Homo sapiens: one gene and its partners. The protein of the gene in region 1 purifies or fractionates together with the protein of each later gene. This does not show direct contact. Each region holds a gene or a part of one and is shown on either strand. Other genes may lie near its edges.

What was found. Proteins that work in one complex are often made in the same cells at the same time.
Region 2: the proteins of MAPK8IP1 (region 1) and SH3RF3 purify together in Homo sapiens (affinity purification with western blotting; one study listed by BioGRID). This does not show direct contact.
Region 3: the proteins of MAPK8IP1 (region 1) and VRK2 purify together in Homo sapiens (affinity purification with western blotting; one study listed by BioGRID and IntAct). This does not show direct contact.
Region 4: the proteins of MAPK8IP1 (region 1) and TTLL4 purify together in Homo sapiens (affinity purification with mass spectrometry; 2 studies listed by BioGRID and IntAct, with this or other methods). This does not show direct contact.

The regions. Positions count from the first base shown.
Region 1 is NC_000011.10:45,891,151-45,896,698, forward strand, and holds part of MAPK8IP1 (C-Jun-amino-terminal kinase-interacting protein 1), read left to right. Parts: intron 1-5,548. UniProt on the Homo sapiens protein: The JNK-interacting protein (JIP) group of scaffold proteins selectively mediates JNK signaling by aggregating specific components of the MAPK cascade to form a functional JNK signaling module. Required for JNK activation in response to excitotoxic stress.
Region 2 is NC_000002.12:109,132,205-109,136,728, forward strand, and holds part of SH3RF3 (E3 ubiquitin-protein ligase SH3RF3), read left to right. Parts: intron 1-4,524. UniProt on the Homo sapiens protein: Has E3 ubiquitin-protein ligase activity.
Region 3 is NC_000002.12:58,154,806-58,158,612, forward strand, and holds part of VRK2 (serine/threonine-protein kinase VRK2), read left to right. Parts: intron 1-3,807. UniProt on the Homo sapiens protein: Serine/threonine kinase that regulates several signal transduction pathways.
Region 4 is NC_000002.12:218,752,335-218,756,858, forward strand, and holds the end of TTLL4 (tubulin monoglutamylase TTLL4), read left to right. Parts: intron 1-428; coding exon 429-639; intron 640-780; coding exon 781-851; coding exon of another isoform or gene 852-932; intron 933-1,249; coding exon 1,250-1,335; intron 1,336-1,799; coding exon 1,800-2,055; 3' UTR 2,056-3,082; downstream 3,083-4,524. UniProt on the Homo sapiens protein: Monoglutamylase which modifies both tubulin and non-tubulin proteins, adding a single glutamate on the gamma-carboxyl group of specific glutamate residues of target proteins.

The sequences.
Region 1 (5,548 bases):
AAGTTCGTCTCTGGATTGCTGGAAATGGGCCACAACACACTTCTAGCTTGGGGCCCCCATGGTTCCCACAAATTGGGTCACAGCCACCATCCACACGTAGTTCTTAATCATTCTATGATGCCATCTTTGTTCCCTGGCCCCACTCTTGTATTCATTCCAAAATAGCAGGAGCGTCTCTGGGTGCTTTGCCTTGTTCCGCCACTGGAGATGCCAGTGGAGAGCTCATGGCTCCTGCTGTCATGTTGCTTGCAGTGCCTCTTTAATAGGCACTGATTTAGCACCTATGGTGTGCAGGGTTTTGGGCTTTGTGCATAGATTGGAGCAAAGGTGGGGAGTCAGTGCCCAGGTGAGTATGATGACCCTGCCCTCAGGAAACTTGCAGCTCTGGGGAGGGCAGGCAGCCCAGCAGCAGACGGGGAGCCCATGCTAGGCTGGCATGACCCAAGATGAAAGTCTGTGAAGGACAGCAAAGGAGAAAAGAGCGCCCCAGATTCTACCCCATCTCACAACTCTGTGTCCATGTGAGTGTTTCTTCCTGTGTGCAATATCATCCTGGGGAGACCACTGGATCATATATGCTGTCTTTTTGCTCATTTTATTAGTTGTCACCTTAATACACAGACTTTATAATGTTGATTCCAAAAGACTGCATCACATTTCATCTGCTGATGGCCACGATGGAACCAGCCCCCTGGTGCTGGGTGACGCAGGTGTTTTCAGTTGTTTGCTGTGATGAGGAATGAACATCCTGTGTGTAACAGTTCTTCTCCAAACAATGTGGGATTGTTTCCTCGAAGCAGTTTCCCAAAAGTCGAACAACTGGATCCCAGAGTTCTTGCAATGTATCAGCATGAAGATGTTTAAACAGATCAAACATGTTATAACCGCAAGTGGGGTTGTCCCTCGGGGCTCATTTCTTTGGTTGGATTCAGTTTTCGTTGGAGATGACCTCCGTATGGAGGTGGTCAGGAAGGGAATTCTGACCCAAAGAACAAACCCAGCCCAACCCCATGTTCACCCAGAGCCAGGTGGTGGGGGTAGAGCGAGGGCCTGAGAGGGATGCTGGGTCTGGCTCATCCCCACCCCACCGTTTCAGCCAGCACCGTCTTCCCAGAGGACCTGACATCCTAGCCCAGACTCTGGTGTAGGTGGGGACACAGGAAGTTGATTGGAAAAGTGGACTAACTTAGAGATTTCCAAGGCAAAAATCCAGAGAGCCCTGGGACACCTGTGGTTAATTCATTCAGCATTTGTCAAGTACCTATTAGGCACCACACATGTTGATCAAAACAGATATGATCCCACCCATATGGATTAACTGACTCCAAGGGGAGGCCACCGCGGGCCGCATAACCCAAAGGTAAAATTACAGTGATACGGAACCACAGCCAGGAGGGACTCCGAGAGCCCATAGCAGGGCGGTTTGGCTTGGTCCCAGAGGTCAGAGAAGGCTTGCAGAGGAGACCATGCTACTGCTTTGGGAGCTGCGCTATTGAAGGAGGAGATAAAGGTGGGAGGTGGGGGGAATGAAGGGAAATGATACTGGTTGGAGGGAAAGGAGGCTTTACAGAGCCTTCAGGCCACAGATGAGAATTTGGGCCCCTTCTCCTAAGGACCAGGGGAAGCTATTAAAGGGCTTTGAGCTGGGAAGAGTGACCAGACCAGATTTGTAATTCAGAGGTCAGCTTTGCTGTCATTACCTGGTGGAGAGTGGCTGGTAGAGGAACCAGAGGGAAATGGGGAACCCACTTAGGGTTGAGCGGCCAGTCAACAGGTGTCCTGAGAACTCACTGGGAGCCAGCTTCGTTCTCAGCACTTAGAGGGCTGCAAAGAGGCAGGCTGGATCCCTGGACCACACGTGCCCTCTGTCACAAGAGAGGCTTGTGGGGCATTGTGGCCAGGACCCAAGGTCAATCAGCTGGCATCCTTACCTCCTCACCACAGCACAGCCAGGAACACAAAGGCCCAAGAATGACATCTGAACAGCCAATGCCTGGCTCAGATTTGGCCTTGCTCAGCTAAAGCCTCAGCACTTTACCACTTAACCTTTGCTTTACATACACTTCTAACTCAGCCTACTACGGAGCTGAAATAGTCCGTTAGAAAGGGCAGGACTGTGGTTGGTGGAAATGTGACCCAGCAAGGCAGGGGAAAAGGGCCTGAAATCAACATCAGAACACAAAAGGCATGTTTGTTCAGGGCCATTTAGAAAAGTGCAGCTCAGGGTGGGGTGGGAGCAGGAGCTGGTATGGCGAGAACAGTGAGGAGCTGGCAGGGCAAAAGCAAGGACTGGGGCAGCAGAGTAGGAGGGATCAGGTGAATGCAGGAACAGGGCCTCAGGTAGAAAGGTCAGGGCGGTCTCCAGAGACCAAACTCACAGCTCAGAGCCACCAAACGTTAATATGGATGACGTCTCAAGGATCACAGCATCCAGGATAGACAAGCAGGTCTGATGGGTGGGCAGGGGCTGCTTCTACAGGAGACTGCTGAAACTTCCAGACCCAGAGGTGAGGGAGGCCGGCCTGCGGAGGGCCGTAGGATTCAGTTTGGAGGCCTCCTGGTGCTAAGGCTGCCATGAGCAGGGTGGATCAGGCGGGACAGGAGGGAACCGCCCTCTTTTCCCCTTCTTCCCCTCCCTTCTCCCCTCCATCTTTTCCTCCCTCCTCCTTTCCCTCCCTTCCCCACATTGACCTTCCATGAGCCTTCAGGGACCAAGTGTCTGTTTAGCCTTCTCTCCATAAAGGGACCCCCCAGGGTTTTAGCTGGGAGGCCAGAACATCTGGTGCCTGGAAAAGAGGAAAGGGCAGAGTCTTGGATGGGGGGTGACTTGCACAGGGTACTCTTTGACCAATCAGTCCCCCTTGATCCTTGGTAGTGACCTCCTACTCACACAAATTCCATTCTGCTAACCCTCACCAGCCCTCTGAGGTGGGTGGGCAGGGATTGGTGGCTTCATCCTGTATCTGGGAAGCTGAAGCATAAGGCACCTTTATGTCTAAGCCTTAGTGTTCCTCATCTGTAAAATGGGAAAAATGGAACAAACCCTCTCCCAAGGTTGTTGCAATGAGGATTAAGAGAGATGCATGGCATAAATGTTGGGGCCAAGATGGGGCAGCTTCAACGTGAAAGAGTCAGGATTTATTTCAGGCCTCCTGCTTCCAAGCCTGATATGGTGATCATTCTTCCATCCTGCCTTACTTATGAGAGGCACCTAAAAAGTCAGACAAAGCATCCCCCTTAACCCACCCCAGTAGAGCCAGGGATCAGGCATAGGCTCTCTGACCCCCAGCCCAGTATTCTTTCTAGCATTGCCCAATTAAAGCCCAGTGCCCTCAGCTGTACAGGAAGAATGCTGCTGTCCTTGCCCCACCCAGACCTATTGTCCAAGGAAGTGGGAATATCAGGTGATGTTGAGGGTGTAGAAGTGAACTGAGAAGCCTCTAACCCAGGTCTAAGCCAGACCCTGCAGGCCCTGCTCCAGCCTGCAGTTCGAGAGGAGCAGGTGGAGGCAGAGGCTGTCCTGTGACAGACATCTAGCAGGCTCATGCTGAGGACTCAGTGTATGCAGGATGAACTCGCCAGCTCTGCCCTCCAGGAGCAAGGGGAGGAAGGGGTCTTGATCACCTGCTGGGTACAGTATAGGGTCATCAATCAGGGTGCTGGATACAGGCCCCATCCACCTTTGGAGCAGCCAGGGGGTGGGAAGTGGGTGTTTCTGAGGGAGGGCTGGCCCTGTCTGCTGCACACACTACTGTACATCCAGGCAGATGGTGACATCAGCCACATGCAAGGGCTGGGAGGGCTTCCTGGAAGAATGAGCTTAACTGAGCACTCTTCCAGCAAGCATGGTTTGAGAGTCTGCCACGTGCTCCCTCTGAGCACTGGGTTTGGCACTGGGGAGACACAGTGCCCACGCAGACTACGCATGGAGCTGGAGGCCTTGCCTGCAGGCACAGGAACCTGCTGCTAGTGGAGAGCCTTGAGGGTTCCAAGTGGGGCGGGAGGGATGATGGCATTTCTGGCAGTTTTGCCTGATAGTGGCAGGTGGAGTGGGATGGTGCAGGCATAGGGAGACTGAGACAGACAGGCCAGTGGGGACATCTGGGAGGGCAGAGGCAGGAGCTGGACTAGGGCTTGGCAGTGAGGAAGCGGAGCCATGTGTGAGGAGACACAGATGTGTGCAGGGGGGCTGGGCACCATGGCTCACGCCTGCAATCCCAGCACTTTGAGAAGCCGAGGCGAGCAGATCACCTGAGGTCAGGAGTTCAAGACTAGCCTGGCCAACATGGTGAAACCCTGTCTCTACTAAAAATACAAAAATTAACCAGGTATGGTGATGCACACCTGCAATCCCAGCTACTCAAGAGGCTGAGGCAGGAGAATCACTTGAACCCAGGTGGCAGAGGCTGCGGTGAGCCAAGATCATGTCATTGCTCTCCAGCCTGGGTGACAGAGCGAAAGGCCGTCTCAAAAAAAAAAAAAAATATATATATATATATATATATATATATGTGCAGAGGTCACTGGCAGAGCAGGGGCATTTCAGGGCACCTCTGGGTCAGCGGTCCTGCAGCTCTCCCATGCCATCTGAGTACCAGGGGCTCCCTTTTGCACCACTGGCCTTCTCGGTGACCATCTGGGCAACCAGTGTGAATTGAACACTTACTTGGTGCTGGCCACTGGGTTTTTGTCCCTGAGCCTGAGATGCCACCCTGCCCTGGCCGGACGGAGGAGGGCTGCTCTGGCTTCTGGGCCAGGCCCTCCTCCCCACTTCCACCCCAGCTGGCCAGCCACACCCTCCCCATGGCCTGGGGAACCACCACCCTTGGGCTGCAGGTCAGACGTGACCCTACAGGGCACCTTGTCCATCCAGCCCCCATTCCCCACCCCTCTGTGCAGTGCCCTCCAGGGGCCTCCAGGTTCTGTTTATGTCATTCCAAAGGGAGAGGAAGCTCATTACCACACAGCAGCCCTTCCAGCTCTGCTCTAAGGGCCCAAACACTGGCCTGCCCTTAGCTGTGGCTCTGGTGCCTCCTGCTTCCATAGGCCCTGCCTTCCTGGGTCCTGAAGGCTCAAGCTCTGGCTGCAGAAGGAGGCAGCCCAGATCAAACCCAGTTTGGATGCAGCCTGGGCCCACAGAAGCCTCTCTGATGAGGTCGGGGGGCTGAGCCTATGGCAGTGCAAACCGAGTGTTCATTCTTAGGGTGTTTGGGAAGCCCCCCTTCATCTCCCACCTGGCACCCTGACTGGGGAACTGGCCCTTTAAAGCCAACCAAGGGCTGGCTTTTGGGGGGAAACATCCTAGATTTCTGCCATCTACTTACAAGCCTGGGCCAGGGAGGGGGGGCCACTCAGCCCCCGACAGGGGCATTGGAAGGGCAGGTGGAGCCAGTGGCATTGATTGCAGTAACCTGATCCCGTGAGGGAGGCGGCCACAGCGGCAGCAGCGCAAGGGCCAGGCCAGCCGGGAGGAAGGTGCCTGCAGCTGAGGGCTGCGCTGGGAAGAGCTGGGGCTGGGACCCGGGTCGGCAGCTGCAGCCTCCTCTCC
Region 2 (4,524 bases), on another chromosome or scaffold:
TCCAATTAGAAGCTCCTTACATCTTCTTTTGGGCCAATTAGGGTATGTATACTTTTTAGGTATATAGGTAAGTATTGGCATAGCTTGTTTACTTTATTAATTTTGTTACGGTTCAATATTTTGACAGCTTTATTTAAAAAAAAGTTTTAATTTCTGTTTGGTTTTACTGGCAGGACACAAAACAGTGTTTTCCTGAACTCTTTACCTGTTGTTTTTCATCGGTTTTGGTGATCACCAGAGTACTTGGAGTCCCCTGACGTGGTTAGCAGAACCTCTCAGCTCTGCTCTCACCTGAGCCATTTGAGATAAAGCGCTTTTGTGGAGTCAGTTAACGATGCTGCCCCTGGAAATAATATACCCAGTGACGAGTACCCATAGCCTAAGATCAGGAGTTGGTCTTTTTATTTGCCTGTTGGCAAATACTATATGTGTGTTGCTTCTTAAAGTGTGTTCATATGTGTTACTTCTTGAAGTGACCTTTAAACAGTCCTGTTTTAATGGTACTGTCTAACCCTTGCAGTTGCTAATGTATGCTAAATTTCTCAGGCTAACTTGTTTGTTTATTGTTTTGTTTTCACTATTTTGCAAGAAAATCCCTTTAACATCCCAAGCTAGCATCAATCAAATTGTTTCAGTGCAGTGGGAGTCTTGCTAAAAGAGTTTTGTGGTTCCACATTGAGTAATTCAAAACATGCTTTTTAATGTAAGTGATTTAATAAGGACTTGAATATCAGACAATTCCAATTTTGTTTTGAAAATTTTTTAAATCCTTGACTTATATTTGAGCCTATACAGAACATCTTCTGCAGTTCATGTAGACTCGGCTAGGCACTATTATAGGTAAACAAGACTGGCTTGGGCTTTCTGGATGGAGCTGACAGTAGAGGTAGTGAGTGGTTGCAAGCTGTCTGCCCAGCTCTCAGAAGGTACCCGTGGGCACTGACCGGTGTCACTCCAGAATTCTGTGAGGGTTACAAGGAAGGACATTGTCACAAATTAAAGAATTCTAGAAAGCTTAGGCAGTGCCTTTGATGATATAAAAGTCGGCATTACAGCCTAATAAGTTTATCTGTATTTTGTATCTTGAGGTACAGTGGTATATGTTCACATTGGATCCGTTTGAAAATCTCTTCTGTGTCTCTTTGACAATGTGACTGGGACTTAATAGAGAAAATAATTTAAGTTGGAGAATCATAAAATTATATTTGTTAAATATTTTATTTTATAAGCATACACGTGTATGATTCTTCCACCATTTTTTGAGTACAGAGCTGAGGACCTTTCTTTGAGTTCCAGATTGTCTTTTTAGCTGAACACAGTCACCTTTTATGATTTTCTATTTGTTTCTTTCAAATAGAGTGAAGACTAAGATTTTCAAAGGATTCTGAATAGAGCGTCATTTAGATTTTAAATAGGACCTCTCCACTAATGTTTGATGTTCTCATTTACACCTGATTTGACCATTTTGTTAGTGTTTGAGTCTTTCATACATGGTCATCTTGATTTCCCAAGGGACAATTTTTTTTTTTTTTTTTTTGCACTCAAACTTCTTTCCCTGTTACAGACTATTGAATTATGGTGCATATTTAGCATTATGAGTACAACTTGCATTAGCATAGTTGGGAATAAGGACAACAGATCCCTGATAAGCACAGGCTTCCCCAGGCAGGAGTGGCTGGCCCAGCCTTGCCAGGCTGTAGTCTCTGGTGGGTGTGGGTGACTTTGGCTGTGTTACAGAGGACGTGGAATGTTGGTTAGTCCAGCTGGTCAGCTAGTGGAGGCCAGGATAGAGGGTGTCTATGGTATCTGGAAGCTAGTTACCATGTTCTTTGGGTCTCGACAGTTGAACTGCTTATATACCCGAGATTTTCTGTTGAACATTTACTGAGTGCCTGCTGCATGCTGGGCACTTTGACATATATCACCTTATGGAAAGTTCACAATAATCCTGCCAAGTGGCTGGTATAATTATTATTTTGAGGCCCAGAGAGATTGATATTTGGGCAAGTCAGAGAGCTAGGAAGTGATTGAGTTAGGATTCTGTTCCTCCGCCCTTCTGTCCAGTTTGGCTGGATGGTTGGGATGTTGTCGTGGTTCGGTCTTGGATATAATAAGGACTCCAGAGGAAAAGGCTGGCACTTGGGGGCCTCACCAAAAACCAGACAGCTCACAAGAGACCAAACGAGTGGTTGATATGACAGCTGAGTTACAGCAAAGTCCTGTTCAGAAGGCCCCTGAGTGTGGAAACAGCAGTTTGCAGCCAGCGAGTGAATAATCTAAATTATTATTTATTGAGCACCCAGTGGGACCAGGTGTGAATGAAGCCTCTGCTGAGGGCTAAGGGTTGAGCGGTGTTTTAAGTGTGGCTCATCTGGTCCTTACTGCAACTTGGTGAGGTTGCTAGTTACACAGGTACGGAAATTAAGGCTCCAGAATTTCCTTGCTGAGCGGCACACAGTTAATGAGGGTGTTTTTTGGAAGATTAACTTTGGCCTTGGTTAGAAGAGTCCTCTTACTCTACCACAGGCTCAGCTCGTTGGTAGCACGATTCTAAACATAAGCAGTGGCCACCCCTTCCATTCACCGTGCCTCACGGCTGCAGATGCTCTTCTATGCAAGGCTGCTGTCTTGTAAACCCACAGAGTGCACAGAGCAGTGTGGCCCACAGGAAACAGCATCAAATCTGTTGTGGCTTTGGATGCAGGTGACAGGCAGCTCTATTAATATGTAAGTGACATGAACAGGACATTAGTCTGAGTGGCCTAGCTGGCTAACCCAGCAGCTCTGTGCTCTCCTCACTGATCCATACTTGGTCTGCCCTTCTGCTCTGCTCCTCTGTTGGCTTCATTCTCATCCCTACCCAGTAGGTCTCAAATAGAGGCCGTGGCTTCAGGTGTCACAGTCCCATGACAACACCCAGTAGTGGAGACAGCAGGGTTTCTTCCCCTTGTACTTAGTCTCCAAGTCGGTGAGCAAACGGTGACCCAGCCCCAACCCCATGTTTCTTGTTACACCCCTGGGGACAGTGTTGCCTCCCAGGCTGGTGTCTGAAGCCCACACACAGGACTGCCTTTTCTCCTGAGGCGGTGGCCTGCCACCTCCCCCAGGACACGTGGAAGGAGGGGAAGGGGTGGTGGGAATCCCACTGAAGGTGGTTTTAATCTTGGCTTCCACACTTCCTCACCATCTGCCCCGGGGCAAATGGGCTAGCTTTCCTGAGACTTGTTATCAGTGAATTAGGGATGCTATCTGCTTCTTAGATAAATAGGATAACGTATGTGCAGTGCCTGGCACACGTGATTGGCTGTCGTTTCAGTGCCTGTTCCTAATACGAAAATCTTCAAGTCTCTTATCACGCGTGAGGCACACCTCAGAGTGCCTGCTTTGCTGCTGGTGGATTTGTGGTATTTAGTATTCTAAGTTAAGGGTGTGTGCGTGTACGTGTGTGGATGTGGATGTGCATGGGGGGGTGTGTGTGTGTTGTGAGTCTGATATCATGCTTTGCCTCTAGATTCAGTCAGTCCATGTTGTGGAAACTGGATCGTCAAGCATTACTGGGCATCTATGCGGAGTAGTTGCTTGAGTCTGTTGGTTTCCTTTTTAAATTTGCTCCAAGTTTATCTTTATTATCAGAGGCAGTGTTCATGATTCTTACAAACTTCATTAAAAGGGAAAAAACGTCTAAGCCATAATCTGCTTTAAAAAAACAGCAGGGGAGAATAATCCTGCTCAGTTGCTGATCCAGCCTGTTGGCAGGCTATCCTGAAAACGAGCCCACCTCCGTCATCCGTAGGACACAATAGCTTGTCTACAGCTGCCTAGAATCAGGCTGCTTGCTGTGATGGAGCTGAGCAGAATTCTATCCAATTGTTTCTTCCTCCTGGCTTTTGAGAGCCTGCCTGCTTGCTGGAGCATGACAGATTCGGGGCTCAGTTTTGCAATTGTTTCTAGTGTGCATTTCCGTTTGATCTGTATTTAATCTCTATCTTTTACAGTTAACATGATCTTTTTTGAGGTGCATTAAAAAAAAACACACACATCAGCAAGCATTTGCTGGGGGAAATGCTCTTGATAGCACCACTTGAAGAGGCCAAGGTCAATTTTTATCAGATTTGCCTTGCTTGGGAGATCTTCAGATTTGATGAATGTGAAATGCATGCTTGATGGGTATCCTATTGGAATTTTAATTAACTTTAAAAGAACAGGGTGTCGAGCTGAAGGTATTGGCAACAGTGAATGGTTTACAGATCATGCAGGCACCCCATAATGTGAGCCTCCCTTTTCCCATTGAGTGAAGTTGGAATGAAAAAGTGTATAAAGTTGCAGCATGATTTGTATTCTGCTTTCTTTAGGCTCTCCTGGCCCTTGATGGCTCTGCACATCCTTGGAGGCCATTTAGAGCTGCAGCTCTCCTTTGGGAGACCTGAAGGAGGCCCAAGAAGAGTCACTGCGCTCTTGGGTAGCACGTGTTTACATTGTTAACTGATGCAAACGAAGATATGATGGTATTTGCATTTCCACTTA
Region 3 (3,807 bases), on another chromosome or scaffold:
AGTATTCCATGCTATAAGTGTCCTGCTAAACCCTGTTTGTACTGCATCCTGTAAATATTTATACATTTCAATTTTGTTCACTTCAAAATATATTTCCCCTTGAGACTTTTAATACCTTATTTAGAAATGTGTTAATTCCCAAGTATCTGAAGATTTTTTTTTCAGTTATTGATTTCTAGTTTAATTATATTATGGTCTAACAATATAAATTTGTTAGGGTTTGTTTTATGGATAGGATATGACGGTCTGCCTGGTTGAATGTTCCAGTTGCAGTTGAAAAGAACATGTATTTTCCTGTTTGGGGGTGAAGTAGTCTATAAATATCAGCTAGATCCCATTATCTTGTGATGTTACTGATTTATTTTATATTCCTGCTGATTTTCACTCTAGTAGTTATATCAATTACTGAGAACAGAGCTTTCTAGTTAGGGAGATGTGCGATGCCAACTCTTTGCTGTTTAATGCACAGCAGGCACGGTCAAAAGGGCAAGTGCCTCTCCAGTTTCTGAGGCCAGAGTGGAGGGTTGCTGTTGCTCTGATGTTTGCTCAGTGCAAGGTGGAGAAGGTTGGTAGCTCTCTACTACGGTCTCTACAGTGTCTGGTGGGGAGGAAGACAGGTACCACATCTGCTTGTGTTAGTGCAGGGAGGAACAGGCTATATGGCTCTGCCTTACAGTTTTGGTAGTCTCCTGGTGGGAAGGAAGGGGGACCACCTCAGTAGTACAGGCTGGGAAAGGTTGTCAGAGCTCTATCTCACAATTTCCCTAACACCCAGTGGGATAGGGTATCACCTTGTTAGTGTGAGGACGGTCAACAGGGCTCTACCTGTCTCCACAGTGCTTGATGGGGGAAGGGTAGGTGTGCTCCCTGGTTAGTGTAGGGTGATGATACTCAACAGGACTGTACCCTCCCTCTTCACCCCACCCTTGCCACCTCCCCACCGCCCCCACCATCCCCCCCACCCCGCCGCCCCGTTTCCACAGCACCTGGAGAGAAGTAAGGTACAGCTTCTTTCATGGTGTTCACCTAGGGTTCAGCAGGTATAAAAAGATTCTGTCCTGTAGACCTGTCCTCCCCCAGGGCTATTGGTTACATAGAGCATGTTTTTCATGTTTGTTTTTTTTTTTTTCCAGTCTGTGCATATTGCTGTTTCCAGAACGCAGGCTCTTTTATGGCCCAGGCTGGGGTAATAGGAGGTACTAAAGTACATGGCGGGTGGAGACTCAAGGGAGGGTCATTTTTAGAATTTTCAGTGTTTTGATAGGTGCTTTTTGTCCACTCTTTAATTACCAGAATAAGGTGGGATGCTTACTCTTTCTTGTCTATAACTGGATGCCCCTCACTTTGATTTTGAAAGCTTCATTGAATATGGAATCTATTCTTTCAGAACTTTAAAAAGGATGTTTCCATCTTCATAGGTCTGTTTTTTTTTCTGCTAAGAAGTTAGCAGTTATTCTTATTGGCCCATTTATAATGTATTTCTTTCTGTGGCTTTCAAGATTTGCTTGTTATTTTTGGTTTTGTAAGGATGGCTGTCTTTTGTTTATTGTGCTTTGGGTTCGTAGAGCTGCTTTTATCTGTGGGTTGATATTTGTCTTCAAATTGGAAAGGTTTTGTATGATTTCATCAATTTGTTTCATGCCTTAATCTCTCTTATTTCTCTGAGTTCCAAATACATGCATGTTAGAATACTTTACCTTTTTCATAGGCAGCTAAATAACTATTTTTTTAAATCAGTCTTTTATGTTGCTGTACCTCAGGTTGGGTGGTGGTGTTTTTTTTGTTTTGTTTTGTTTTGTTTTGTTTTGTTTTTGCCTGACCTCTAGTTGATTGTCAAATCAGCTGTTAAACCTAGCCAATGAATTTTTCATGTTATACCCTGTATTTTTCAGTTCCACAAGTATATTTCTTTGTATGTTGAGATTCCACCTCCCCCATATCTGTTCATTAATTATGTTCAACTTTAATTCCTTGAACATATTTATGTAGATGTTTTATAGTCCTTGTTTGATAATTGTACCATCTGGATCAGCCCTGAATCTCTGTTAATTTTTTCTCCTGGTTATGGGTCACATTTCCTGCATCTCATTTGTAGTAGTTTTATTGTATACTGAACATTGTGGATGCTGTGGTCTTTAGACTCCAGATTTTATTGCATTCCTTTAAAGAGTTTTGAGGTTAGTTCTGGCAGACAGTTAACTTACTGGTGACTAAACCTGATCATTTTATAAGTTCTGTTCAGGCTTTTTTGGCCTAGTCTGCAGTAAATCTTAAATTGTGGCCTTTCTTAGGTCTGTGTTATTTTCCCTTCCTGAGCTTTGTTTTAGATCCCTAAGTTATTTCACATATTTTGACTAATTTTGTTTTCTATTATTTATTTATGGGTTTTCACAGCAGAAGGGGAAGTCTGGTATCAGATTTTCATGGCCAGAGTGGAAGTAGTGTTGCTATTTTTCATAGCTTCCCAGTCGATTCTGATGTGCATTCAAAGTTAATAACTATTCTAATGTAGGGTTTCTTGACAGCTGCACTGTTGACATTTGGGAGCTGAGCTGTTATTTGTTGTGGGGGTGCTGTCCTGTGATGTAGGATGTTTCGCATCATTCCTAGTACTTATCTACTAGGTGTCAATAGTATCTCCTCCTAGCTGTAACAACCCAAAATGTCTCCAGAAATTGCTAAATGTCCTCTGTGGGGCAGGATCAACCCAGGCTGAGAACCAATGCTCTATCACAGTAGATTATTGCATTGCCTTGAGCCCTTTGCTACTCAAAGTGGGGTGTGCAGACCAGCTGTATTGGCATCATCTGGAGCTTCTCAGAAATACAGAATCTCAGGTCATACTCCTAGACCTTTTGAATGAGATCTGCATTTTAACAAGTTATGATGATCTGTTTGCTTTCTAATACTCGAAGAATAATGCCGTAGAGCAGGGGTCAGCAAACCTTTTCTTAAAAGGCCAGAAAGAAAATATTTTCAGTTTACTTTCCATACAGTTTTTGTCAGAACTATTCAACAATGCCATTGTAGTGCAAAAGCCCACATAGACAATACATAAACAAATTGATGTGGCTCTGTTCCAATAAAACTTTATTCACAAAACAGGCAACTAGCCAAGCCAAATTTTGGCAACTCCTGTTATAGACTATCCTAATCAGACCCCCTCAGTGTACTGAAGACAACAGGTGGTTAAATTCTTTGATGAGTGCCTTGCCATATGATGTCATTTGCTGATGTTCAAGAGAGATTAAGTGTATAGATTACACAGTAGATGATTCTGGAAATTATAGTAGCTTGACTTCTATCCTTACCTAAGTGGAGATATCTCCCAGCCTTGCACATGTGAGCTATATGTAAATGCTGCTCTATGATTTGATAGCATAATTATTATTTGTATTATGCTTTATAGGCCTACTGGAATAATTATTCACTTATTTTGACTTTAGTTAATAAAGCTGACAAACTTATGAAAAACTGCATTAATGTGACTTCGTTAGCTCAGAAAGAGTAGTTTAAAATGAGTTATTTAACTCTAAAGTGAGTCATTTAACTCTCAAGTAATTTTTTTTCATAGGAAAGCTAGTAGTTTTTAAAACATCCTTTGTTTTATGTAGGACTCCTTTCTGACACTTCCAAAACTCTGTATCTAGAAAGGGGAGGGCTGTTTGTTTGAAGGGTGGCAGTTTAAAGGTTGAGAAGGTAGTAGCTATTCTGAGAATGATGGACAGTGAACAAGCTTAAAGTATTTTGCTTTGTTTTATAAATTTCTTCTCTTCTAAGTTAGTTACTTGATAAATGGTGCTGAGG
Region 4 (4,524 bases), on another chromosome or scaffold:
CTCTTGTCCAAACTATAGACTTTTACCCTTTGGGTTTCTTTCTCTGAGAGGCACAGTGAGAGACCCCAGGAAGCTGACTTTCTCAGAGCAGATAAGGAAGCTGGATTTAAGCATGGCAGATACAAGACTGGTGCCAAATCTGAATTGCTGGATCCTCATCTTGACTTTACCCAACAAACTACTTAACCTCTCAGCCCCAGTGGCTCCCCTGACCCCAAACAAGAGTGCCTTCCCCCACTAGCTAAGTTCAGTAGACTTAGGAACAGATGTCTTTCAGAGCTGGCCCACTAGGCTGCCCTCAGTAGTTCCATGAGAGTCCCGGAGCTGTAGGACCCCAGGGGTGTGCTCCCTGTTCCCCAGCTTCTTGAGTCTCTGCCCCTGGCTTACACTCTCTCACACCCTTTTTCTCCCTGTTCCTTGGACCACAGGACTTCTATGCATCTGTGCTGGATGTCCTGACACCAGATGATGTTCGGATTCTGGTTGAGATGGAAGATGAGTTTTCTCGCCGTGGTCAGTTTGAACGAATTTTTCCTTCTCATATCTCCTCTCGCTATCTCCGCTTTTTTGAGCAGCCACGATATTTCAACATTCTCACCACCCAATGGGAACAGAAATACCATGGCAACAAGCTTAAAGGTGATGTGCCCTCCCTGCCCTCAGAAAGCCAAGTTTAGTGAGAGATTAAATCCCAGTATACCAAGAAATGGGCCTCTCTGGAAAGAATTGGCCAATTGATTCTACCTTCTTAAACCCCAACTCCTGCTAATCTTGTCCTAGGAGTAGATCTGCTCCGGAGTTGGTGCTACAAAGGGTTCCACATGGGAGTTGTCTCTGATTCTGCTCCAGTGGTGAGTGCTGCCAGTGTGGAGGACAGCTCCTTCTCAGGCCCCTCCCTCCTCTGCCTTATGAGTGCAGCAGGAGTTGGGTTGGTATGTATAGGCCTCTCTCACTTCTCCGCTAGGCTCTGCTTCTGTCTCACCATTCTTTCCTTTCAAGGGAATAGTTGCCTCCAGGATTCCCTGGGTACCTTTCTTTCAAGGATCAAAAAGTGCTTTGTAGGCCTCAACTTCTTGTTTGATTCAGAAGAGAACTGAGACTTTTACCCACCTGGGCCCATGCCTGAGGGGTAGGGAAGGGGAGAACCCCATGATCCATTTAGAGGTAGAGCTGGAGGGTACCAAGACCCCAAACACTCCTGCCTTGCCTCCGCCAAGCCTTTTGGTCTCATTGCTTCCTTTGCTCTTAGTGGTCTCTCCCGACATCACTTCTGACTATCTCAAAGGATGACGTGATACTCAATGCCTTCAGCAAATCAGAGACTAGCAAGCTGGGGTGAGTGCTGCCTGGGCAAGGGAGGGGCTGCTGGCTGTGAGTTTGTAGAGTTTTCTTCCTTCCCCTCTTCCCAGACTGTGGCAGTGAGATCAGCATTCTCCAGCTGGGGGTTGGTGGGAGCGTCAGGACATGCAGCCATAGCATCCTTTTTCTGGTAGATCTTGGTATGCCCAGGGAAGCTGAGCTGGAGGACAGAAGTGCTTCCTGAAGCAGCCACTGTCAGCCATACCCACTAGCTGTGGGAAATTGTTAGCCCTCTACCCGCACCCCCATTCACTCTTGCACTGCAGGTCTCAAGCCTTCAAGTAAATAGAATTTTTTTTATGGTTATTACATTTCCATGTAATTTTGGCCTACAACACTGTAATGTCGTGAATGCCTGCTCCAGACTGAAGGCAAATCCTAAGGTAAAGTCTCAGTTAAACAGTGTCTCAGTCATTTCTTTCACCACCTATTCCCTCCAGAAAACAAAGCTCCTGTGAGGTTAGCCTACTACTCTCTGAAGACGGGACCACGCCCAAATCCAAGAAGACTCAAGCTGGCCTTTCCCCTTATCCCCAGAAACCCAGTTCCTCAAAGGACAGTGAGGACACCAGCAAAGAGCCCAGCCTTTCTACCCAGACGTTACCTGTGATCAAGTGCTCTGGGCAGACTTCAAGACTTTCTGCTTCCTCCACTTTCCAGTCAATCAGTGACTCCCTCCTGGCTGTGAGCCCATAACTGGCCTCTCTCCAAAAGCCTCTGCCCAGGAGCATGGGCATCAGCTACCTCACGGGAACCAGCCTGCTGTTCAGACCAGTCTGACCCCCTACCCCTTTCACCCTGTCCCTCCTCAGAGTATTTTTTGAAGTGGTTGCATTATAGAGATGGGTATTTGTAGGGCCGGAGGGATGGTAGTGATGGGGAGAAGGTGAGGAAGGGTCACCCTCTGTCACCTGTCTGCCTGGCTGGCACCTCATATCTCAGCAGAGAAGCCAGTGGTGGCCACGCAGCCTTATAAAGCAGGTTTTGGTTTCTACCTTAAGTGAGCCATGTGTGGTTTGTCTGGGGGCCCTGGTGTGGTTGCTGAGTTGTAGCTCAAGAGGAGAAAACATACAGAACATATTTGGACCGGAAATCCTTTGTTCTGAATTTGAGGGGGTCTTCTGAGGTCCTTACTTCCTTAGGTCTTTCCTCACCCCTCTCCCACCGCTGTCCTGAGGAGAAACCCTTGAACTTCCTCAGTAGACAGGCGGAGAGGCCACAACATGCCGAACCCATTTCCTGTCATCCTAGTCTTGGGTCTTCACCGCCTCCTTCCAAATACCCACCCTGCCAGCAGCCCTAGGTCTTCCTGTTCTGACCCCCCATCACTGCTCGTTCAGCCTTCTAGATGTCTCTCTCGTGGACATCTGTTCTTTAGCTGTTGGCTTTCTCTGAGGTGTGAGAGGGTCTATGAACTTTGTGAATTTCCCATGGCCCCAGTGAAGGAGCCCAGATAATCCCAGTAGCTGTTACCTGTCTCCATGTATCAAAGGACACAGTCCAGGGGGAGGGTGGAAGGAGATGTGGTTTCTCTATAGTGCAACAAACATGGTTTCTCAATGTTCTGCTGTGCAGCAAGCAGGGTCTGGCGGCTTGGTAGGTGGGTTTCAGGAGCAGTCACTATTGTAGGATGGGCTTCCAATCAAACCTCAGACTAAACTCTTGTACTGAACTGATTCTACCTCCCTCCTCTAGACTCAGTAAACAGTGACTATTCAATAAATGTTGACTGAGTGAACTGTATTTACAGAGATCTCAAAGGACCCCAGCACTTGAACCAGAAGTTCTAATTGTCTCTCATCTAGGTATGAGAAAGTGGAACCTGGGAACAGCACAAGCGGAAGAGTTCGGATCAGAAAGGTTTTCTCTGAAGCCGTGCTCCTTCCTAACCCTGCACTTAGTGGTTGCTGCTTGCCTCCTCCCCAGCCCCTGTAGTCCCTTTACTTAGTTTTTTCTAGCAGTGGCACATATAAGAAGCCAATTGGCCCCGTGTCCCTGCTACTCAAGTTTTCTCTTTGCACATCAGGCAGAAAGCTCAGCTACTTGGTCTCACCCTGGACTGTAGCTGCCCCCATTCTCTCTGAGCTTTGGAAAGATAGAGACTTCTGTGTTTCATGGCTCCTGGAGTTCTGTGGCGAGGTGGGGTGGGGCCCTGGAAAGATCACTGAGAGGCCTGATTGGGTTCAAGGCCACAGAGTAGGTGGGTGTTTGGCCGGTCCTAAGGCCATGTTGACAGTTGTGAAAGTTTGGTGACAAAGTCCTGGGCATCATTGGCTGCTCAATAGTAAGGACTTTAAAGTCGGGCCATAATGGGAGAGGTCCTTGACACTCCTATTGGATCTTTTCTGATGTAATTGAAGTGACCCGCCTCTTCTCCCCGCTGGCTGCAGTATTCTAGTGCAGACATGACATGGGGAATCTGCTGCCTTCCTAAGAGAAAATGAGCTGCCTGCCTGGCAGTTTTGTTGTGGCTGGGCCTTCACGGCAAGGACCTAGGCACGGAGTCCTGGTTGAGCTGGTTTACTCCATGAAAACGAACTTCAGTTCTTTGGCTTGCCCCCTGAGAATCCCTGTACAACACAACCAATCTATTTCCATTGCCCTAACTGGAGAGGGAACCAGCATTGCTGAATGGGGGTATTGGGGGAAGCATGGTGGGGGAAGGGAGAAGGACTTAGGAAATTAAGTCCTTGTGAGCAATGAAGGTCCTAAAAGAGCAATGGAAAGACACTGCTCTTAGTTTAAAACAAGTTTGTACATTATTCTTAATTTTCATCACATTTGAGTATCTGATAGACATGGGTGTTTTGCTGGGTAGGAGAAAGGAATGGGACTTACATACCACATTTACCTCTCACTCTTGAGAGAAAATTAAATCTTATCAAGCATTTGGCATATATACTTTTGTATTGAATGCCCACAATATGAGGTATTCAGCTAAGCAGGAATTTTTGAGAAGGAATGAGATTTTTTTGGGAAGGTTAAATTGGGAGTATAGTAGAATAAATATTTGTCAGAATATGTCAGTTGTTTTCCTAAGTTGATAACTTACCTAGTCTATTTGGAGGAAGGGAGGCGAGTGTTCTTGAGACAAGGAATGAAGTGCAGGCTATTTCTGGAGTAGTGGAGTAAGGGCTTGGGGTGGAAAGTGGAGGAGGGCAGTCA